Regions from separate parts of the Homo sapiens genome. Here region 1 is linked to region 2. The links come from fine-mapping of genetic effects on gene expression. A gene starts in region 2. The other region holds a variant in brackets. All regions are shown on one strand. Distances are between the middles of the regions. Region 1 overlaps MAP2K2 (mitogen-activated protein kinase kinase 2). Region 2 holds the start of MAP2K2 (mitogen-activated protein kinase kinase 2).

What was found.
Region 1: its variant is fine-mapped to the expression of MAP2K2 in whole blood (TOPMed, PIP 0.98).

The regions. Positions count from the first base shown.
Region 1 is chr19:4,083,707-4,094,255 of GRCh38, forward strand. It overlaps MAP2K2 (mitogen-activated protein kinase kinase 2), which reads right to left. Exons shown (of 11, transcript NM_030662.4): 11 at 6,615-7,002. The coding sequence ends at 6,892. Among named protein-coding and RNA genes, the nearest start is that of ZBTB7A, 22 kb to the left of the region's middle. RefSeq lists enhancers at 949-1,088, 5,580-5,749, 6,028-6,804, 6,160-6,239. The variant CCT/C (reference allele first, on the strand shown) is at 6,630.
Region 2 is chr19:4,119,078-4,129,785 of GRCh38, forward strand. It overlaps MAP2K2 (mitogen-activated protein kinase kinase 2), which reads right to left and starts at 5,045. Exons shown (of 11, transcript NM_030662.4): 1 at 4,707-5,045. The coding sequence starts at 4,798. RefSeq lists silencers at 4,638-4,887, 5,078-5,197.

The DNA.
Region 1 (10,549 bases), 35 kb before region 2:
ACACTGGGATCAGAAGGATTGCTTGGGGCCAGGAGTTCCAGGAGTTTCAGGCCAGCCTGGGCAATACGGTGAGACCCCATCTCTACGAGAAAGTTTCAAAAAATGAGCTGGGCATGGTGGCGCGCGCCTGCAGTCCCAGTTACTCAGGAGGCTGAGGCAGGAGGATCGCTGGAACCTGGGAGGCGGAGGCTGAAGTGAGCTATGATGGCGCGCCACTGCCCTCCAGCCTGGGCAACAGAGTGAGACCCTGCCTCAAACAAAAACGTAAACAAAACAGGAGGCCCTGCTCTCCTGAGGGGCTGGTGGTGAGTCACTGGTAGATGGGAGAGAGCTGGGGTCAGGGTCCCAGCTGGGGGGGTGGGTCCTCACCTGTGCTACCCTCCAGGGGGCCTCTCTCCAGGCCTCTGTCCCTCCCCTGGGAAGCCTGGCAGAAACCTGAGACTGGGCCTCCAGTTCCAGGTCGCCACTGGGCCCAGGCCTCTCCTGTCCGCCTGCCAGGGACTGCGGAACAGGTAACTCCTGCGCCACCCTAAACCCACCTGGCCTGTTGCTCCAGGTGCGGCCTGGAGGCCCCGGGGCCTGCACACCTGGTCAGCTCAGAGGCCAGGAAGAGGAGCGGAGGGAGGGGTGGGGCCGCCGGCCGCTGCTGGTTTCGTTTTGAGCCGGGCCCCTTCTTCCTCCCTCCCTCCCACTCCTCGCCAGACCCCTGCATTCTGGGAAAGGCTGTGACAACTTCCTCTGAACTCTCCTTAACCTGCCCTGGAGCCCAGGGCCTCCAGGAGGCTGAGTTCCGCCTGCGGGACCTGAGGCTTCCTGCAGGTCACACACCTCCACCCCTGGCCACGTGGCCCTAGACCGCCCACCTTCTAGAAGCTTCTTTATGTGCTGCCCCATCATGTCCCCACCCCGGGTGCAGCTGTCCCCTGCCTGCACCCCCTCCACCCTGTGTCCCAGACTCTGCACACAGGAAACCGCCCTGGCCCCAGGGAGGGCTGCCTGAGACCCCCGCCTCCAACCTGCACTGGGGACATCTGGGCTGGATGGTCCTCGGGAGGTGGGGCTGCCTTGGGCACTGCAGGGTGCTGGGTGACATCTCTGGCCTCCATCCATTCCATGGCAGGGGCACCCCCTGTCTCGACAACCACAGACGTCTGGGAGTTTCCAAGCCTCCCCTGGGTGGGGGGACAGAATTGTTCCTGCTAAGATCCAGTGGATTAAAAGACATCTGTGAGGGGACAGAAATGACTGAGTTTTGTGCCGGCCGGTCAGGCAGTCCCTGGCAGACAAAATTCCCAAGTATTTGCATCCAAAAAAACAAAACAAAACAAAACAAAACAAAACCACCCAGCGTGGTGGCTCACACCTGTCATCCTAGCACTTTGGGAGGCCAAGGCGGTCAGATCATTGAAGTCAGGGGTTCGAGACCAGCCTGGCCAACATGGTGAAACCCTGTCTCTACTAAAAATACAAAAATTAGCCGGGTGTGGTGGCACATGCCTGTAATCCCAGCTACTCGGGAGACTGAGGCAGGAGAATCGCTTGAACCCGGGAGGTGGAGGTTGTGGTGAGCCGAGATCACGCCACTGCACTCCAGCCTGGGCAGCAAAGCGAGACTCCATCTCAAAAAAAAAAAAAAAAAGAGAGAAAAACCTAAATATTTCATATTGATTCCAAGGTGAAACGGGAATATTTTGGCTCTGCTGGGTGAAATATACTATCAAATCATCTGTTCTTTTCCTCTATTTTGTTTATTAATATTTATTTATTTATTTATTTATTGAGATGGAGTCTGTCTCCCTCTGTTGCCAGGCTGGAATGCAGGGGCGCGGGGTGGAACAGGTAACTCCTGCGCCCCTGCCTCAGCCTCCCAAGTAGTTGGGATTACAGGTGCCCACAACCATGCCCAGCTAATTTTTGTATTTTTTGTAGAGATGGGCTTTCATCATGTTGGCCAGGCTGGTCTTGAACTCTTAACCTCAGGTGATCACCCACCTTGGCCTCCCAAAGTGCTGGGATTACAGGCATGAGCCCCTGCACCAGAACGGTATTTATTTTTTTTGAGACAGAGTCTCGCTCTGTCACCCAGGCTGGAGGGCAGTGGCATGATATTGGCTCACTGCAGCCTCCGTCTCCTGGGTTTAAGTGAACAGGCCGGCTAATTTTTGTTTGTTTGTTTGTTTTGAGACAGAGTGTTGCTCTGTCGCCCAAGCTGGAGGGCAGTGGCACGATCTTGGCTCACTGCAGCCTTCCTCTCCTGGGTTTAAGTGAACACGCTGGCTAATTTATGTTTGCTTGAGATGGAGTCTCGCTCTGTTGCCCAGGCTGGAGTGCAGTGGCATGATCTCAGCTCACTGCAAGCTCCACCTCCCAGGTTCAAGGGATTCTCCTGCCTCAGCCTCCCTAGTAGCTGGGATTACAGGCGCCCGCCACCATGCCTGGCTAATTTTTGTATTTTTAGTAGAGATGGGATTTCACCATGTTGCCCAGGCTGGTCTCGAACTCCTGACCTCAAGTGATCCTCCCGCCTTGGCCTCCCAATGTGCTGGGATTATAGGCGTGGGCCACTGTGCCCAGCCCTTTCTATTTAAAATGTTTTAACAGGGAAATCCTGCTAAAACTGGGAAATGTACATTTCGTCTGGGGTGCAATGTGCACATTGGGTTGGGGTGGCAGGGATGGGGACAGGACGGGGACGCTATGGCGTGGTGCCCCGCGTGGAATCTCACCCTCTGGGCGGCTGGTTGCTTCTCCGGCCTCATTTCATTTGATGACCTTTCCACTTGCCCCACCCCGAGGCGGTTGTTGCAGGAGGAGAAGGAAGTATGTGCCTGTCCCAGGGCCGGCCTGGGTCCCACCTGGGGAGAATTCCACAGGATGAAGCGAGCAGGCAGTCGCCTGTGACCCCAGCTTCATAAATCAAATATGTTAGCAAATCCTGCCCGGCACACAGCCTGGGGCACTTGCATGGAGCCAGTGACTTTTTGGTGTGTCCGGGGACAGACTGCACTATGGAGAGGGATGTCAGGGCTGCCCATGCTCTCCGGAGGCAGAAGCCAGCACATATGAGCAAGTCAAGCGCTGTTTATTTACGATGAAAATACCAAGCTGGGGGGTGGGCGTGGTGGCTCACGCCTGTAACCTCAGCACTTTGGGAGGCCGAGGCGGGTGGACGGCTTGAGGTCAGGAGTTTGAGACCAGCCTGGGCAACATGGTGAAACCCTGTCTCTACTAAAACACAAAAATTAGCTGGGTGTGGTGGGCACCTGTAGTCCCAGCTACTCGGGAGGCTGACACACAAGAATCAGTTGAACCGGGAGGTGAAGGTTGCAGTGAGCTGAGATTATGCCACTGCACTCCAGGCTGGGCGACAGAGCAATACTCTGTCTGGAAAAAAAAATACCGAGCTGGGAAAACAGCCGACAAAACACTGTAGGAGTCTTCTTGGGGCCACAGGTGGTGTGCCCCAGGTCCACGTGGGCCTCAGACATGGGGGCAGGGCTATCATGTTGTCGAGAAGTTTTTTTTTTTTTTTTTGAGACAGAGTCTTGCTCTGTCGCCCAGGCTGGAGTGCAGTGGCGCGATCTCGGCTCACTGCAACCTCCGCCTCCCGGGTTCAAGCGATTCTCCTGCCTCAGCATCCTGAGTAGCTGGGACCACAGGCGTGCTACCATGCCTGGCTAATTTTTGTATTTTTAGTAGAGACAGGGTTTCACCATGTTGGCCAGGCTGGTCTCGAACTTCTGACCTCGTGATCCGCCCCTCTTGGCCTCCCAAAGTGCTGGGATTACAGGCATAAGCCACCGCTTCCGGCCTATCTGGAGGTTTTTAATAACCACAGAAAACCTCAACACGTCTGTGTAAAACCTTCCAATGTCAAGGAGTGAGCTGCCCCAGGGCCCCCCAAGGCCTGGCTTTCAGTGACACTCCCTTCACCCTAAAGCCCCGCAAACGTTATTTATTATTTATTTTTTATTATTTTTTTGAGACGGAGTCTCGCTGTCTCGCCCAGCCTGGAGTGCACTGACACAGTCTCAGCTCACTGTAAGCTCCGCCTCCCAGGTTCACGCCATTCTCCTGCCTCACCCTCCCCAGTAGCTGGGACTACTGGCATCCACCACCAAGCTCGACTAACTTTTTTTTGTATTTTTAGTAGAGACAGGGTTTCGCCGTGTTGGCCGGGCTGGTCTTGAACTCCTGACCTCAGGTGATCTGCCCACCTTGGTCTCAAAGTCCTGGGATTATAGGCGTGAGCCACCCAGCCCATGCCCTGCAAATTTTAAAATGCTGCATGTTTTACAGGAAAGGGTCTGGCCCCGGGAGGCAGGGAAATCCTACCCCCTGGACTGCAGCATGTCCGTGGCCAGGGCAAAAAGGGGCATCCCCAGGTGTGTAGCCACCTTTGGGAGCACCCGGGATCCCTTCCCAGGCCTCCACAGTGGAGAAAATGAGGCAACGAGTCCAAAGGACAGCAGGCAGGAGGGGGATCTCGGATGAGGCGGCGGCTGGGTCTGGGAGGTTTCTTGGGGGAGCAGGAGTTGAGAGATCTAGAAACCGCCAGGGTGGACGCACTCTTGCCACATCTACAAAGTAGTTTCTAGAAGTCTGACCCTGAAGCGAGGCAGGGAAGATAGGCAAGACCACGGCTTCTCTCCCGTCCTTCCCTCTGGGGTGCCGTGGGGCTCCAATGAAGCTGCAGGATGGCTGCGCACACCGCAGGGATCCTGGCGCGGGGTCCATCCCCACCTAGCCCAGACTGCCCCTGCTCCCCTGGGACTCCGTGTCCTTTCATTCCTTGCCAATGGCAGGGGGTGGCCGGGACCCTGGGGTTTCCAGGACCGGCCGAGGTCCCGCCGGTTTGGAGCACAGGCAGCCAACACATTCCCCCCGGCCCTCCCGGCAATCCTGAGGGTCCTGGTTACCCACAGGGCGGCACCTTCAACACTTTTTTTTTTCTCCTATTTTTTATTTTTTGGGGCCACACTCCGTCGCCCAGGCTGGAGTGTGATGGTGAGATCTTGGCTCACTGCAACCTCCACCTCCCCAGGCTCAGGTGATTCTCCTGCCTCAGCCTCCTGAGTAGCTGGGACTACAGTTGTGCACTACCATGCCCGGCCAATTTTTTTTTTTTTTTTTTTTTTTTTTTGTAGAGATAGGGTTTTACTATGTTGCTCGGGCTGGTCTTGAACTCCTGGGCTCAAGTGATCTTCTTGCCTCGGACTCCCGAAGTGTTTAGATTACAGGTGTAAGCCACCAAGCCTGGCTTTTTTTTTTTTTTTTTTAAGTCATGTGAGACTTTAGGGCAAAACATAAAGGAGAGCAGCCTGGGGAGCTGTTTGCAGGAGGTGTCAACTCATCTCTTCTTTGGTGTCTGCAGAAAAAAAAAAAAAAAAAAAGCCACACAAGACTAGAAGGGTCACCCTAAGAAGAAAAGGACAATCCAGCAGTTCCCACAGAACCACAAGCCCCCACCTTCTGCTTTGTTTCCTCCAGAAACACAGTTGCCAGCCACCCTTCCCCTACAATTCGCCCGCAGATAATATCAGCTTGCTGGTAGTCTCCAGGAAGTACTGAAGGGGGAGGCTCACAGCCTCAAGAGCTTTAGAGAGCTCAGAGGGACCCTAGAACAGCCCAGCTGCCCACCACACCTAGCCCAGAGGTGGCCTCCTCTATCCGAGCACACAGTCCCGAAGGTAGAAAGGCTGGGCTTTGGATCTCGGACAACCGGAGAAGCAGGCGATGGGCCTCCGGGAACCCCGAAGACCCCAGGACAAGCCCTCACCGTTTCATCTGCAGCCCACTGCGGCGGAACAGTTCAAAGGCCCGAAAGTGTCACATGCCCTGGTGGTCACTTCTGATTTGTTGGGCGAGGAGAGGTGACAGAACCACCCGCCCTGGGCTGGGCCTGCTGCGGACGCAGGGGGAGTGCAGGGCGTGTCTCGGGACCTGCTGGGGTTTCCAACCAAACCGACAGCTTGGAAAGCCAGCGCTTCCTTTCTGTGGGGCTGAGTCTCAGCTCAGCTGCCACTGCTGGGAGCCCCCACTCCCTGAAGCGGGGGGACAGGGAGAGGATGGTGCCACGCTGGGGAAGAGGCAGGGGCGGCCTTCCCGCGGAGGCTACGTGACAGGAGCAGTGTAGAGGAAGTGGTTTCCATCACGGAAGGCCGAAGCTCTGCCTTCCACAGGGGCAGAGATGGTGGCGGGGAGGACACAGAGGGAAACCAGGTGGCATTTCCCTTCTTTTTTTTCAGTAGCCTTGCTCTGTCACCCATGCCGGAGCGCACTGGCACCATCGAGGTTCACTGCAGCCTCAATCCCCTGGGTTCAAGCGATCCTCCCGCCTTAGGCTCCCAAAGCACTGGAATGACAGGCATGAGCCGCCGCCCCCAGCCTCACTCTCCTTCCTTTTGGTGAGAGCCGCCATCGCCTGGGGGCTCACTGCAGGTCTTCATCCCTTGACCCAAAGGGAGAGGCGAGCTCTCCCTAAGGGAGGGCCCTGCGCCCTCCAGCCTCGGCGCCCGGCGATGCGGGTCAGCTCAGGGATGTCCTCTCCGTGCTGGGCTGAAGCAAAGCCCAGCACCCAACGCCGAACGGAAGAAAGAAGCAGGATGGCGCGGTTTGCTTTTTCTCTC[CCT/C]GTTTTGTTTTGTAACCTAAGGAAGCAGAGCCTCTGAGACCACACACAGCAGCGTCGCCCGTCCCCAGAGGCACCCCGGCCAGGACGGGCAGGAGAGGAGACCCCCGTTCCTGCATGCGCTGTCGCCCCGCCACGGTGCTCTCCGCAGGGGTGAGGCAGGAGGGTGGGTGGAGGCGCCAGCCTGTCCTCAGCTGGAAGGGCGGGGCATGGACAGGGACGGTGGGCAGGTCACCAGCGGGACGCAGGGAGCCCGGCCACTGTCACACGGCGGTGCGCGTGGGTGTGCCGGGCTGGTTCAGCCGCAGGGTTTTACACAACCAGCCGGCAAAATCCACTTCTTCCACCTCGGACCGCTTGATGAAGGTGTGGTTCTGCAAGGAAAGGGGAGCCGTGAGCACCCGGGCCTGGAGTCACAGTAGGACGGGGAGGGCCAGCGTCTGCCCAGCCCTGGCAGATGGTACGGGACAGAAAGCAAAAAACAGAGGAGACCCTCCCTTCCCCACAGGAAGACGCACTCGGGGTAGGAGAGGGAAAGAAACCCAGAAAGGGGCAGCGGCGTGTGCCAGGCCTGGGAGGGGTCTCAGGATGCTGCACTCCACCTGGGGCGGGGACACCACCAGCACGGCAGCCTGCGCTCCCAGGGGAGGGTCTACGCTCGCGCAAGCCCAGGGTCCTCCGGCCGCTGTGGACACCGGGGCCGGATCATTCTCTGGCGTGGGGCCATCCTGGGTACTGCAGGGTACTGAGCAGCGTCCCTGGCCTCCACCCACTCCATGCCAGGGGCTTCCCCAAGTCGTGACACCACAATGTCCTCAGCCATTGCCAGGGTCCCCCGGAGCAGGACAGCCCAGGCAAGAACGGGCTGTTCCACAGAACTCCGCGAAGAGCATTGTACAGGCACCGTCCCACTCGCCAGCACATGAGGCTCCAGAGCCCCTGGACTGTGGCTCCCATGGCTTGAGAACAAAAGCCTCAATTTTATTTCAGTTTAACAAATTAATTAAATACTTTTACTTTAATTTTTTTTTTTTTTAGATGGAGTTTCACTCTTGTTGCCCAGGCTGGAGTGCAGTGGTGTGATCTTAGCTCACTGCAACCTCCGCCTCCCGGGTTCAAGCGATTCTCCTGCCTCACCCTCCCCAGTAGCTGGGATTACAGGCATGTGCCACCACACCCAGCTAATTTTTGTATTTTTAGTAGAGACGGGGATTCACCATGTTGGCCAGGTTGGTCTCGAACTCCTGAACTCAAATGATCCTCCTGCCTCAGCTTCCCGAAGTGCTGGGATTATAGGTGTGAGCCACCGCAACTGGCCTTAATTTTTATTTTTTGAGACAGTCTTGCTCTGTCGCACAGGCTGGAGTGCAGTGGTATGATCTCAGCTCACTGTAACCTCTGCCTCCCAGGTTCAAGCAATTCTCCCGCCTCAGCCTCCCAAGTAGCTGGGATTACAGGTGCGTGCTACCATGCCCAGCTAATTTTTGTATTTTTAGTTGAGACCGGGTTTTTCCATGTTGCCCAGGCTGGTCTCGAAATCCTGTCCTCAAATGATCCGCTCACCTCGGCCTCCCAAAGTACCGGGATTACAGGTGTGAGCCACTGTGCCCGGCCCCACTGAACACACTTCAACAGCCACGTGTGACCAGCGGTTCCTGTACAGGACAGCACAACATGAGAAGCCTCTTGGTTGGAAGGGCTGGGGGAGGAGGGCGGGTGCCCTTGGGGAAGAGGCTGTGCTGGGCCACCCCACAGTGGGTGAGTAGAGGCCTTTGGGGTTCCCAGGAGGGTGGTGTCCAGGACCTTGGGCCCCTGAATGCTGCCTCTTTTGCAGCTGGAGGCAGGCCAAGGTGCCTATCTTCCTAAAAGTCGGTGTAGGTATGGGTGAAAAACCAACCAACTTGATAGGACACATCTTGGCTAGGTCCAGGATACCCAACAGGGGAGCATTTTTAAGAAGCTGGTTCAAAAATGGCTATTTCAGCCAGGCCCAGTGGCTCATGCTTATAATCTCAGCACTCTGGGAGACCTAGGTGGGTGGATCACAAGTTCGAGACTGGCCTGGTCAACATGGTGAAACCCCATCTCTACTAAAAACACAAAAATTAGCCGGGTGTGGTGGCACGAGCCTGTAATCCCAGCTACTCGAGAGGCTGAGGCAGGAGAACCGCTTGAACCTGGAAGATGGAGTTTGCAGTGAGCCGAGATTGCGCCACTGCACTCCAGCCTGGGCAACAGAGCAAGACTCCGTCTGAGGGAAAAAAAAAGTTATTTCAACATTAGTACCCCTCTCTTTTTAGTTATTTATTTATTTTGGAGAGGCACAGTCTCACCATGTTGCCCAGGCTGGCCTTGAACTCCTGGCCTCAGAGAGCCATCCCCCTATGGCACTAGGATTCCAAGTGCCCACCACAATGCCCAGCCTGCCTCATTAAAAAAGAAAAAAAGTCACACATGCCAGGTGCAGTGGCTCACACCTGTAATCCCAGCCCTCTGGGAGGCCAAGGTGGGAGAATCATTTGAGCCCAGGAGTTTGAGACCAGCCTGGACAATTAGCAAGACCCTGTCTCTATAAAAAAAACTAGCTGGGCAGGTCGGGCACGGTGGCTCACGCCTGTAATCCCAGCACTTTGCGAGGCTGAGGCAGGCAGATCACCTGAGGTCAGGAGTTCGAGACCAGCCTGGCCAACACGGGGAAACCCCATCTCTACTAAAAATACAAAAATTAGCTGGGCGTGGTGGCAGCCACCTGTAATCCCAGCTACTTAGGAGGCTGAGGAGGCTAAGACAGGAGAATTCCCTGAACCTGGGAGGCGGAGGTTGCAGTGAGCCGAGATCGTACCACTGCACTCCAACCTGGGTGACAAGAGTGAGACTTCATCTTTGCGGGGAAAAACAAAACCCACACACAAAAACTAGCTGGGCTTGGTGGCACACATCGGTAGCCCCAGCTGCTCAGGAGGCTGAGTGGGAGGATCACTTGAGCACGGGAGTTGGGGCTACAGTGAGCTACAATCGCACCACTGCATTCCAGCCTGGGGGACAGAGCAAGGCTGTATCTCAAAAATTTTTTTGACCAGGTGCGGTGGCTCACATCTGTAATCTCTGCACTTTGGGAGGCTGAGGCAGGTGGATCACCTGAGGTCAGGAGTTTGAGGCCAGCCTGGACAACATGGTGAAAGCCTGTTTCTACTAAAAATACAAAAATTAGCCGGGTGTGGTGGCGGGTGCCTGTAATCGTAGCTACCTGGGAGGCTGACTGGAGAATTGTGTGAGCCTGGGAGGCTGAGACTGCAGTGAGCTGAGATTGCTTCACTGCACTCCAGTCTGGGCGACAGAGTGAGACTCTGTCCGACTCTCAAGAAAAAAACAAAACTGAAAGCCACATTCCAGTATTAGAAGGCACCCGGTTGGGTGTCTGTAGCTGGCATCTCTTCTTTTCTTACAGGCACAGAAAGTAACGGGCTGTCTAGGGGGGTGGCATCTCCAATCCGCCAATCAGCTGTCGAGGGGTTTGAAGGTCGCTGACGGTGGCTGTGGTATGGGAAAGCACTCGGGATGCAGGCTGGGCTGAGGGCAGGAGGATGATGCCCGGGGCCCTCCTCTGAGGGTGTAGTCCCCGCTGGGGAGGCGAGTTTTGGTGAACAGCTGGGCTTCCGAGGATATCAGAGGATGGGGGTTTAAGGGGACACCGAAGTACGCACGGCCTCGGGGGACCTGCTTGCCAGTGTGCAGAACAGGGATGGTCACCCTCTAGTTTGCAGGGAAAGGAGCCTGGGGGGCTGAGAGCTGCCTCCAGCCTCTCATGAGGGCAAAGAAGCCCGGGGTCTCATCCTGTGGGTGCGGGACCAGCACCAGGCAGGAGCGGCGGAGCTCAGAGCCCAGAGCTGTTCCCACGCACACACCCTCTGCTCCCCGCAG
Region 2 (10,708 bases):
AAGCTGGGGTGCAGCGGCACGATTACAGCTCACTGCAGCCTCCAACTCCTGTCCTCAAGTGATCCTCCCACCTCAGCCTTCCTAGTAGCTAGGATCACAGGTGTGAGCCATCATGTCTGGCTCTTTTTAATTAATTAATTTTTATTATTATTATTATTTTCTGAGACAAAGTCTCATTCTGTCGCCCAGGCTGGAGTACAGTGGTGTGATCTTGGCTCACTGCAACCTCCACCTCACGGGTTCAAGCAATTCTCCTGCCTCAGCCTCCGAAGTAGCTGGAATTACAAGCACCCGCCACCACGCCCAGCTAATTTTTGTATTTTTAGTAGAGACAAGGTTTCGCCATGTTGGTCAGGCTGCTCTTGAATTCCTGGGTTCAAGCCACCTGCCCACCTTGGCCTCCCAAAGTGCTGGGATTACAGACATAAGCCACTGCACCTGGCTGAAATTAATTTTAATAACACATTTGATTTAACCCATCAAAAATGTTATCATTTTCAACGTACAACCAGTATGAAAAATGAATGAATGTTTCACACTGTTTCCGTCTTAAGCCTTTGAAATCTACAATGGCATTATTGCGCCTATGCTCTCGTGGGTTTGGGCAATTCTTGTTTTATGTGTTGCCTGTAGCCAGGGGCTACTCAACCAGGCAGTGCAGCTTTAAATGGCTCTCTGGAAGAACAGGCCACCTCCAGAGGTCCCAATTCAGGAAGGAGCTAAAGCCAAGGTGGACAGCCAGAGAGGGGACTGAAGCAGGGAATGAAGGCGTGGACTGCTCCTTCCATCTGGAAATTTCCAATCCCAAAGTTCGACCACTGTTCGCCTACAGCTGGAAGTGGCGTAAGCCACGGGGCACACAGGCCAGAACCGAGGCGATGGCGCTGGAGCTGGTGCTGCAAAGAGCTCGCTGGAAGGCAGGGGCCTGGGCACCGCTTCCTGGGCTGGACAAACACCATCTCATTCCATTCTCACCATCGTCCCCGGAGGCCCAGGCAGGAGGGAACAGACTCACAGGGGTGGGGGAACCTGCCCGAGGTAACAACACCTGCCTGAGGTCAGGACAACCCCTGCTCATCTTAGTGTCCCCCATGAGGGGAAACAGGGCCCTAGTAGGTGCTCACTGAGGAGCTGCTGAACAAGGACCCAGAAGAAGCAGAAATGGCGAGACCCTGGGAGTGGGACAGAAGGTAAGGAGGGGAACATGAATGAATGAATGAATAACATCAATGAATAAATGAATATTTATTTTTTTTGAGACAGTCTTGCTCTGTCGCCCAGGCTGGAGTGCACTGGCACGATCTCAGCTCACTGCAACCTCTGCCTCCTGGGTCCAAGCGATTCTCCTGCCTCAGCCTCCTGAGTAGCTGGGATTACAGGTGTGCATCACCGCGCTCAGCTAATTTTTTTGGCATTTTTAATAGAGACGGGGTTTTGCCATGTTGGCCAGGTTGGTCTTGAACTCTGGGCCTCAAGTAATCCACCCACCTTGGCCTCCCAAAGGGCTGGGATTACAGGCGTGAGCCACCACACCCAGCCATGAATGAACACTTCTGATGGCAGACTTGGAAGGTCTCAAGTACTGCTCAAAACATTGAAAATGCATTCTGGAGTCAGCTGACTAATCCATCTTAAATTTACTGGCAACCCAACTGTGGTTATTAAACAAAACAAAACAAAACCTTGGCGTCCCTACAGCCAGCTTCCTCTCCTGGGGGAATCCTTCAAGAGATGGGAATCAAACCCCACACGGAAGAGAAATGTGAAGGGCGAGTTCTGTGCAGAGAATGAGGAACGGGTCCCCGTGTCTGGCTGTGCCCGTGTTGACTTGCACACATTGGCATCAAGAGTCTTCATCTGGGTCACAGAAGGCCGACCCCCAAGCGGGAGAGGCCACCAGACATGCCACAGTCCCTGACACCTGGTTCTTGAGGGGTCACACCGCAGGCACGGCACCCGGACCCCAGCCAAGGGCCCCGGGGATCGCCCTGCCCTGCCTCGGCCTGCAGAACGGGAGTGCAGAGATCACCCTGGCATGACCCCACCAGTGTGTGCCCCCAACACCCAGTCCCCTCCCTCGTCCTGGAGCAGTGCGATTCTGCCAGCACGCCACCCGGACCCCAGCATACCCCTTTCTCAGATCCCTTCACCCAGGCCTCTGGTCGCCCTCCACCTCCTCAAAGCTTCTGCACTGGGTCAGCCCCTCACAAGGGTTTTCCGGTCCACTCACTTCAGAATCTGCACCTCTGCTTTCAGGGGCCAGCAGGGTCCCCTGATCCCCACGCCTCCTCGTTCCTCACACTCTGGCTTCCCTGTCTCCTCACACTTCCAGCTTCAGGGACTCCACACACTGGGCACCGCCACAAGCAGGAGATGCCCTCTCAGAGATGCCCATCTTGACATCTTGACCTCCCTGGGACCCCATCCTGACCCCCTCAGAACCCCAACATGAGACCCCTAGGACCCCCTGCTCTGCCCTCCCAGAACCCCCACAACATGACCCCCCGAGGACCCCCTAACCTGACCCCCCCAGAATCCCCCAACATGACCCCCGAGGACCCAACCTGACCCCCCCCACAACATGAACCCCCTGGAACCCCTGTCCTGATCCCACTAGACCTCCCCCAGCAGAAACCCCTCCATCTGGAACCCGCTAGAACTCCCATCCTGACCCCGCTAAAGCCCCCCCATGTCCTGACACCCCTAAGACACCCCCTTGTCCTCAGATACCCCAGAACTCCCACCCTGACCCCCCCAAAGTCCCCCGATCCTGACCTTTCTAGGGTCTCCCACCCCATCGTGACCCCCTAGGACACCCCTCTCCCACATCCTGACCCTTCTGGGAGCCCCCTGTCCTCCCCTCTCTTCCCTTTTCCCTGGTTGTCTATGGACCTCCTCACCCCATCCTCTCCCCTAAGGGACCCCCCTGCCCCACCTTGGCACCCTAGGTGCCCTCTTCATCCCATGCCAACCTCATTACTCAGGGACTCATTCCCCAAAAGGACCGCTCCCCGCCCCCCCAAGACCTCTCAGCCTGTCCTCCCCACCCAGGTGCTGCACTCTCAACCTGTGGCTCAGGCACCCTCCCACCCCATCTCTCCCCCATAGGAACCCTCCCACCCCATCTCTCCCCCATAGGGACCCTCCCACCCCATCTCTCCCCCATAGGGACCCTCCCACCCCATCTCTCCCCCATAGGGACCCTCCCACCCCATCTCTCCCCCACAGGGACCCCCTCACCCCATCTCTCCCCCATAGGGACCCCCTCACCCCATCTCTCCCCCATAGGGACCCTCCCACCCCATCTCTCCCCCATAGGGACCCCCTCACCCCATCTCTCCCCCATAGGAACCCTCCCACCCCATCTTTCCCCCATAGGGACCCCCTCACCCCATCTCTCCCCCAAGGGACTCGCTTCACTATCATTTCAATATGCAGAACACCCCTTGCCTATCCTTCCCCCACAGGCCCCCACCGACACATCCTCTCCTCCCAGGGACCCCCTCAACCCCATCTCACAATTCAGGGGCCCTGCACCCCATCTTCTCTCTGCAAGGACATCTCCTTGGCCTGATCTCACGACTTAGGGATTCCAAACCCCATCTTTTCCCCAAAGGGATCTCCCCTCACTCCAATCTCATTACTCAGGGACCCCACCATCTCCCCGATTTCACTATTCAGGGACCGTTCACCCCATTTCACTACTCAGAGACCTACCACCATTCTGCTACTCAGTGACTCCATGCCCTGTCTTTTCCCACAGGGACCTCCCTTGGCCCTATCTCATTATTGAGGGACCCTTACCCCGTCTTTTCCTACCAGGGACCCTACCCCATCTCAGTCTCATTACTCAGGGACCCCTCACCCCATCCTCTCCCCTCTGGAGCCCCCTTGCCCAGATTTCCTCCTCAGGGGCTGCCTGACCTCCCCACACCCCATCCTCTCCTCTCAGGAATGCCCTGCACCCCGATTTCCCTACTCAGGGTCTCCCCTCACCCTCATCTCATGACTACGGCAACCTTTACTCCGTCCTTTCCTCTTAGGAACTCTTCACCCTCATTTCACTACTCAAGGACCCCACACTGTGTTCTCTCCTCTTAGAGATACCCCTCACCCCGATCTCACTGCTTGGGGAGCCTCATCCTGTTCTCTCCTTGGGGACACCCCTCATTCCGATTTTCCTACTGAGGGACTCCCCTCACCCCAGCTTCACTTTTCAGAAGCCCCACACCCCATCTTCTGCACTGCAGGGACCTCCCCTCACTCAACCTCGCTGCTCAGGGACCCCTGTCCCCATCCTCTCCTCTTAGAGACATCCTTCACCCCAACTTCACTACTCAGAGACTCCCGTTATCCCAATTCCACTCTTCAGGAACCCCACACCCCATCTTTTCCACCACAAGGACCTCCCCTCGCCCAATCTCACTGCTCAAAGACCCCCCTGCCCCGTGCACCCTTCGCCCCGTCCTCCGAGGGCCCCCTGCCCCGTCCTCCCCCGAGGGCCCCCTGCCCCGTCCTCCCCCGAGGGTCCCCTGCCCTGTCCTCCCCTCGAGAACCCCCTGCCCCGTGCACCACTCACCCCGTCCTCCCCCGTGACCCCCCTGCCTCGTGCACTCCTCGCGAACCCCCGTCCCCTCGCCCCGTCCTTCCCCGAGGGCTCCCTGCCCCGTGCACCCCAAGCCTCCGGCTGACCCCTGCCCACTCACTCGGAGGCGCCCTCGCTGGTAGGGGATGGGCCCTCGGCGATGGTAGGGTTGATGGTGAGCGCCGGCAGCACCGGCTTCCTCCGGGCCAGCATCGGGGCTCCGCGGGCCGGCGGCGGCGGCGCCTCTAGCCGGGGCCCATAGGGGGCGGGCCGGGAGCGGTCGGCGCCTACGCGAGCCCGGGGCTGCGGCCGCGGCCCAGGCCGGCGTCGGGGCGGCCGAGGGCGGGCGGCGCTGCGGGCCTGGGCCGAGGGTAGCCGAGGGGCGCTGGGGCTGAGGCGAGCGAGCCGCTACCGCTGCCGAGGCCCGAAGAAGGCTGACGCCGCAGCCCGAGTCCGAGAGGCAGGGGGAGGGGAGGGGCGGCCACAAGATCGCGGACCGGCTTCTCGCGATAACGGGATCGGGAGCCGCGATGGACCCCACCCCCAGCCGCCGCGCCTGCGCAGCAGCACAAGGCCGCCTTTCGGAGGGGAAAGGGGCGGAGACCGACGCGAGGCGGTGCCGGGACCGGGCGCCCTCGCTTGCCTTACCACGGCGCGTGTGCCCAAGCGCTTGGGGCATGAGGCGCGGGAGCAGGGGAGGAGACGGAGGGATGAAGGCTGGGGTGATGGTCGTGCACAGGTGGGCAGGGTAGCCAGACTCCTGAGAGCCTGTGGTGCCCCAGGCTGGGGCTGAGAGAACCCGTAAGACCCCAGAACAGTGGACGAGACCCACCCAGAGTCCATTTAATCTTTTTGGCAAGCGTGGACACACGCCCCTAGCCCCCACCGCCTTAGAGTGTCAGTTACTCCCCCTCCTTCATCAGAACAAGGCCACTCTAAAACATTTTTAAAATTTATTTTAATTGACAAATAAAATTGCATATATTACTATGCGCATGTTGAAACATTTTTATTATAAAATACACATAACATAAAACTTGTCATTTTAACCATTTCTAAATGCACAGCTCAGCGGCATTAAGCAACCACCACCACCACCATCTCCAGAATTTTCTCATCTTCCGAAACTGAAACACTGTCCCCTATGAAACCTCACTCCCTATCCCCCTCCCCAGCCCCTGGAACCCAACGTCGTACTTCCTGTGAATCTGATGATTCTAGGGACTTCATATGAGTAGGATCACACAGGTTTTGTCCCTTTGTGGCTGGCATATTTCACTGAGGGCCACGTCCTCAAGGTGCCTGTTGTAGCTGTGTTAGATCCACGTTGTAACCTGTGTTAGAATTTACCCACTTGACTACTCCGGGCATACTTCCAATCGGGTAGCCCTGCTCCAAAAAAGAGCAGAAAAAAAAAAAAAAAGAAAAATTTCCCTTTTTTTTTTTTTGAGACGGAGTCTCGCTCTGTCACCCAGGCTGGAGTGCAGTGGTGCGATCTCGGCCCACTGCAAACTCTGCCTCCCGGGTTCACGCCATTCTCCTGCCTCAGCCTCCCGAGTAGCTGGGACTACAGGTGCCCACCACCATGCCCGGCTAATTTTTTTGTATTTTTAGTAGAGACGGGGTTTCACCGTGTTAGCCAGGATGGTCTCCATCTCCTGACCTCGTGATCCACCCGCCTCGATCTCCCAAAGTGCTGGGATTACAGGCGTGAGCCACCGCACCCAGTCAGGATTTTCCTCCTTTTTAAGGCTGAATAATATTCTATTGTGTGCATGGACTATATTTTGCTTATCCATTTATCTGCCACTAGACACTTCGGTGAATCGTGCCGCTATGAACACAGATGTACAAATATCTGTTTGAGTCCTTGCCTTGAGTTCTTTTGGGTATATGTTCTGAAGAGGAATTACTGGATTATATGGTAATTCTATGTTGAACTTTTTGAAGCACCACCTTACTATTTAATACAATAGCCGTACCACTTTATAAGAAAGGTCATAGGCTGGGCGCGGTGGCTCACGCCTGTAATCCCAGCACTTTGGGAGGTCGAGGCGGGTGGATCACCTGAGGTCAGGAGTTGAAGACGAGTCTGGCCAACATGGTGAAACCCCGTCTCTACTAAAACAAAAAAATACAAAAATTAGCCGGGCATGGTGGCGCGTGCCTGTAATCCCAGCTACTCGCGAGGTTGAGGCAGAAGAATTGCTTGAACCCGGGAGGCAGAGGTTGCAGTGAGCCAAGATCACGCCATTGCACTCCAGCTTGGGAGACAAGAGCGAGACTTCGTCTCAAAAAAATCAAACAAACAAACAAACAAACAAATAAATAAATAAAATACAAAAATTAGCCAGGCCTGGCGGTGTGTGCCTATAGTCTCAGCTACTCAGGCGGCTGAGGCAGGAGAATCGCTTGAACCCGGGGGGCAGACGTTGCAGTGAGCCAAGATTGCACCACTGCCCTCCAGCCTGGGCGACAAAGTAAGACTCCGTCTCCAATAAAACAGAACAAAAAAAAATTTAATTTTTTGCCAGGTGCCGTGGCTCACACCTGTAATCCCAGGACCCTGGGAAGCTGAGGTGGGCTGATCACTTGAGGTCAGGAGTTCGAGACCAACCTGGCCAACATGGTGAAACCTCGTCTCTACTAAAAATACAAAAATTACACAGGTGTGGTGGCGGGTGGCTGTAATTCCAGCTACTAGGGAGGCTGAGGTGGGATAACTGAACCCCGGAGGCGGAGGTTGCAGTGAGCCGAGATTGTGCCATCGCATTCCAGCCTGGGCGACAGAGCCAGACTCACGCTCAAAAAACAAAACCAACCAACTGGCCGGGCGCGGTGGCTCACGCCTGTAATCCCAGCACTTTGGGAAGCCAAGGCAGGTGGATCATGAGGTCAAGAGATTGAGACTATCCTGGCCAACATGGTGAAACCCCGTCTCTACTAAAAATACAAAAATTAACTGGGTGTGGTGATGCGTGCCTGTAGTCCCAGCTACTCGGGAGGCTGAGGCAGGAGAATCGCTTAAACCCGGGAGGTGGAGGTTGCAGTGAGCCGAGATCACGCCATTGCACTCCAGCCTGGGCGACCGACCGAGACTCCATCTCGAAAAAAACAAAACAAAACAAAACAACAAACAAAACACTGCTCCTGGGGAAGCCTGCTCCTGGGTTTTTACAATCTGGGCCTTTCAGTTTTACTTCTCATCGCTCCCACCCGCTTGTCCAAAATTCAGATGGATGCATATGTGGCCTCAAATAAGGACAGGCCCTTTCAGAGACAGGGCTATTTCCATGTTCCTTCTGTTTTGCCTAGCAATCTTTCTCCCATTTTATCCTATTTTAGGCTTTTTTTTTCTTTTTAAGACAAGTTCTGACTCTGTCACCCAGGCCTCAGGCTGGAGTGCAGTGGCACGATCATAACTCTCTGCAGCCTCCACCTCCCTGGCTCAAGCGATTCTCCCACCTCAGCCTCCCTAGTAGCCCTGGCTACAAACATACGCCACCACACTCGGCTAATTTTTGTATTTTTTGTCCAGACAGGGTTTCTCCATGTCACTCAGGCTGGTCTCACACTCCTAGGCTCAAGCGATCCTCCTGCCTCGTCCTCAGCAGTGCTGGGACTAGAGCCGTGAGCCACTGCACTCACCTATTAATGCACAAGTTTCTGAAGTTCAATTTCTTGGATTATTACAACTCTATACATCCATGTAACACTTCCCCTTACTCCAGAAAGTCTGTTCACTGCCTTTTTAGTTCATTCTCTTCCTCTGCACCCAGCAGTAGTGAGCTGGTAAATGTTTAACAATGAGCCATTAAAATAAGGAGAGGCCGGGTGTGGTGGCTCACACCTGCAATCCCAGCACTTTGGGAGGCCAAAGCAGGTGATCACTTGAGGTCAGGAGTTCGAGTCCAGCCTGGCCAACATGGTGAAACCCCATCTCTACTAAATATACAAAAATTAGGCTGGTCACGGGTGTAATCACAGCACTTTGGCAAGCCGAGGTGGGCAGATCACCTGAGGTCAAGAGTTCAAGACCAGCCTGACCAACATGGTGAAACCCCGTCTCTACTAAAAACACACAAAAATTAGCCGGGCATGGTGGTGGGCACCTGTAATCCCAGCTACTCGGGAGGCTGAGGCAGGAGAACTGCTTGAACCCCGGAGGTGGAGGTTGCAGTGAGCCAAGATTGTGCCCCTGCACTCCAGCCTGGGCAACAGAGTAAGGCTCCATCTCGGAAAAAAAAAAAAAATTAGCTGGGCATGGTGGCAGGTGCCTGTAGTCTCAGCTACTTGGGAGGCTGAGGCACGAGAATTACTTGAACCTGAGAGGTGGAGGTTGCAGTGAGCCAAGATCGTGCCACCGCACTCCAGCCTGAGGGAGACTCTGTCTCAAAAAAAAAAAAAAAAAGAAGAAGACCAGATGTGGTGGCTCATGCCTATAATCCCTGCACTTTGGGAGGCCGAGGCGGGTGGATCACCTGAGGTCGGGAGTTCGATACCAGCCTGACCAACATGGACAAACCCTGTCTCTACTAAAAATACAAGGCCGGGCGCGGTGGCTCACGCCTGTAATCCCAGCACTTTGGGAGGCTGAGGCAGGCAGATCACGAGGTCAGGAGATCGAGACCAGAGACCATCCTGGCTAACACAGTGAAACCCTGTCTCTACTAAAAATACAAAAAAATTAGCCAGGCGTGGTGGCGGGCACCTGTAGTTCCAGCTACTCAGGAGGCTGAGGCAGGAGAATGGTGTGAACCCGGGAGGTGGAGCTTGCAGTGAGCTGAGATTTCGCCACTGCACTCCAGCCTGGGCAAGAGAGCAAGACTCTGTCTAAAAAAATAAATAAATAAAAATAAAAATACAAAACTAGCCAGGTGTGGTGGCACATGCCTGTAATCCCAGCTACGAGGGAGGCTGAGGCAGGAGAATCGCTTGAACCCAGGAGGTGGAGGTTGTGGTGAGCCGAGATGGTGCCACTGTACTCCAGCCTGGGCAACGAGAGTGAAAGTCAGTCTCAAAAAAAATAAAGTTGACAATGGTATCAAAGATGCTTACGAGTGGCTGTAAGCCAGCTGCAGTCCACTACTACTCCCAAAACCCCCCCAGATTCTGCGTTCTATCCCCATAGATTAGTTTTTGCCTGTTCAAGAGTTTCATGTAAATGGAATTGCACTCATGGTGTCAGTTCTTTTTTTTTTTTTTTTTTTTTGAGACAGAGTCTCACTCTGTCACCCAGGCTGGAGTGCAGTGGCACGATCTCGGCTCACTGCAACTTCCACCTCCGAGGTTCAAGCGATTCCCGTGCCTCAGCCTCCGGAGTAGCTGGGATTATAGGCGTGTGCTACCACACCCAGCTAATTTTTGTATTTTTAGTAGAGATGGGGTTTCACCATATTGGCCAGGCTGGTCTTGAACTCCTGATCTCGTGATCCACCTGCCTCGGCCTCCCAGAGTGCTGGAATTATAGGCTGGGATTACAGGCGTGAGCCACCGCACCCGGCCTGGTGTCAGCTCTTTCTGCTTTAGGACAATGTTTTGTTTTTGGTTTTGGTTTTGTTTTAGACAGGATTTTCCTTTATTGCACAGGCTGGAGTGTAGTGGTGTGATCTCAGCTCACTACAGCCTCCACTTTCTGGGCTCAAGCCATCCTCCCACCTCAGCCTCCGGAGTAGCTGGGACTACAGGCTCCCACCGCCATGCCCAACTAATTTTATATTTTTTGTGGAGATGGGGGGGTCTCATCATGTTGCCCATGCTGGTCTCAAACTCCTAGGCTCAAATGACCCCAGTGACTTGGCCTCCCAAAGTGCTGGGATTACAGGCGTCAGTCACTGTACCAGGTCCTGAGACAATATTTTTGAGATTCATTTATATTATTTCACATAACGATAATTAGTTCGGTTTCCTTGCTAGATGATATCCCATTGTATGTACTGTGGGCATTGCCCTTGACATAGAACAGTAAATGAATCATCCTTCTGGCCGGGCGCGGTGGCTCACGCCTCTAATCCCAGCACTTTGGGAAGCCGAGGCGGGTGGATCACGAGGTCAGGAGATCAAGACCATCCTGACTAACATGGTGAAACCCCGTCTCTACTAAAAATACAAAAAAAATTAGCA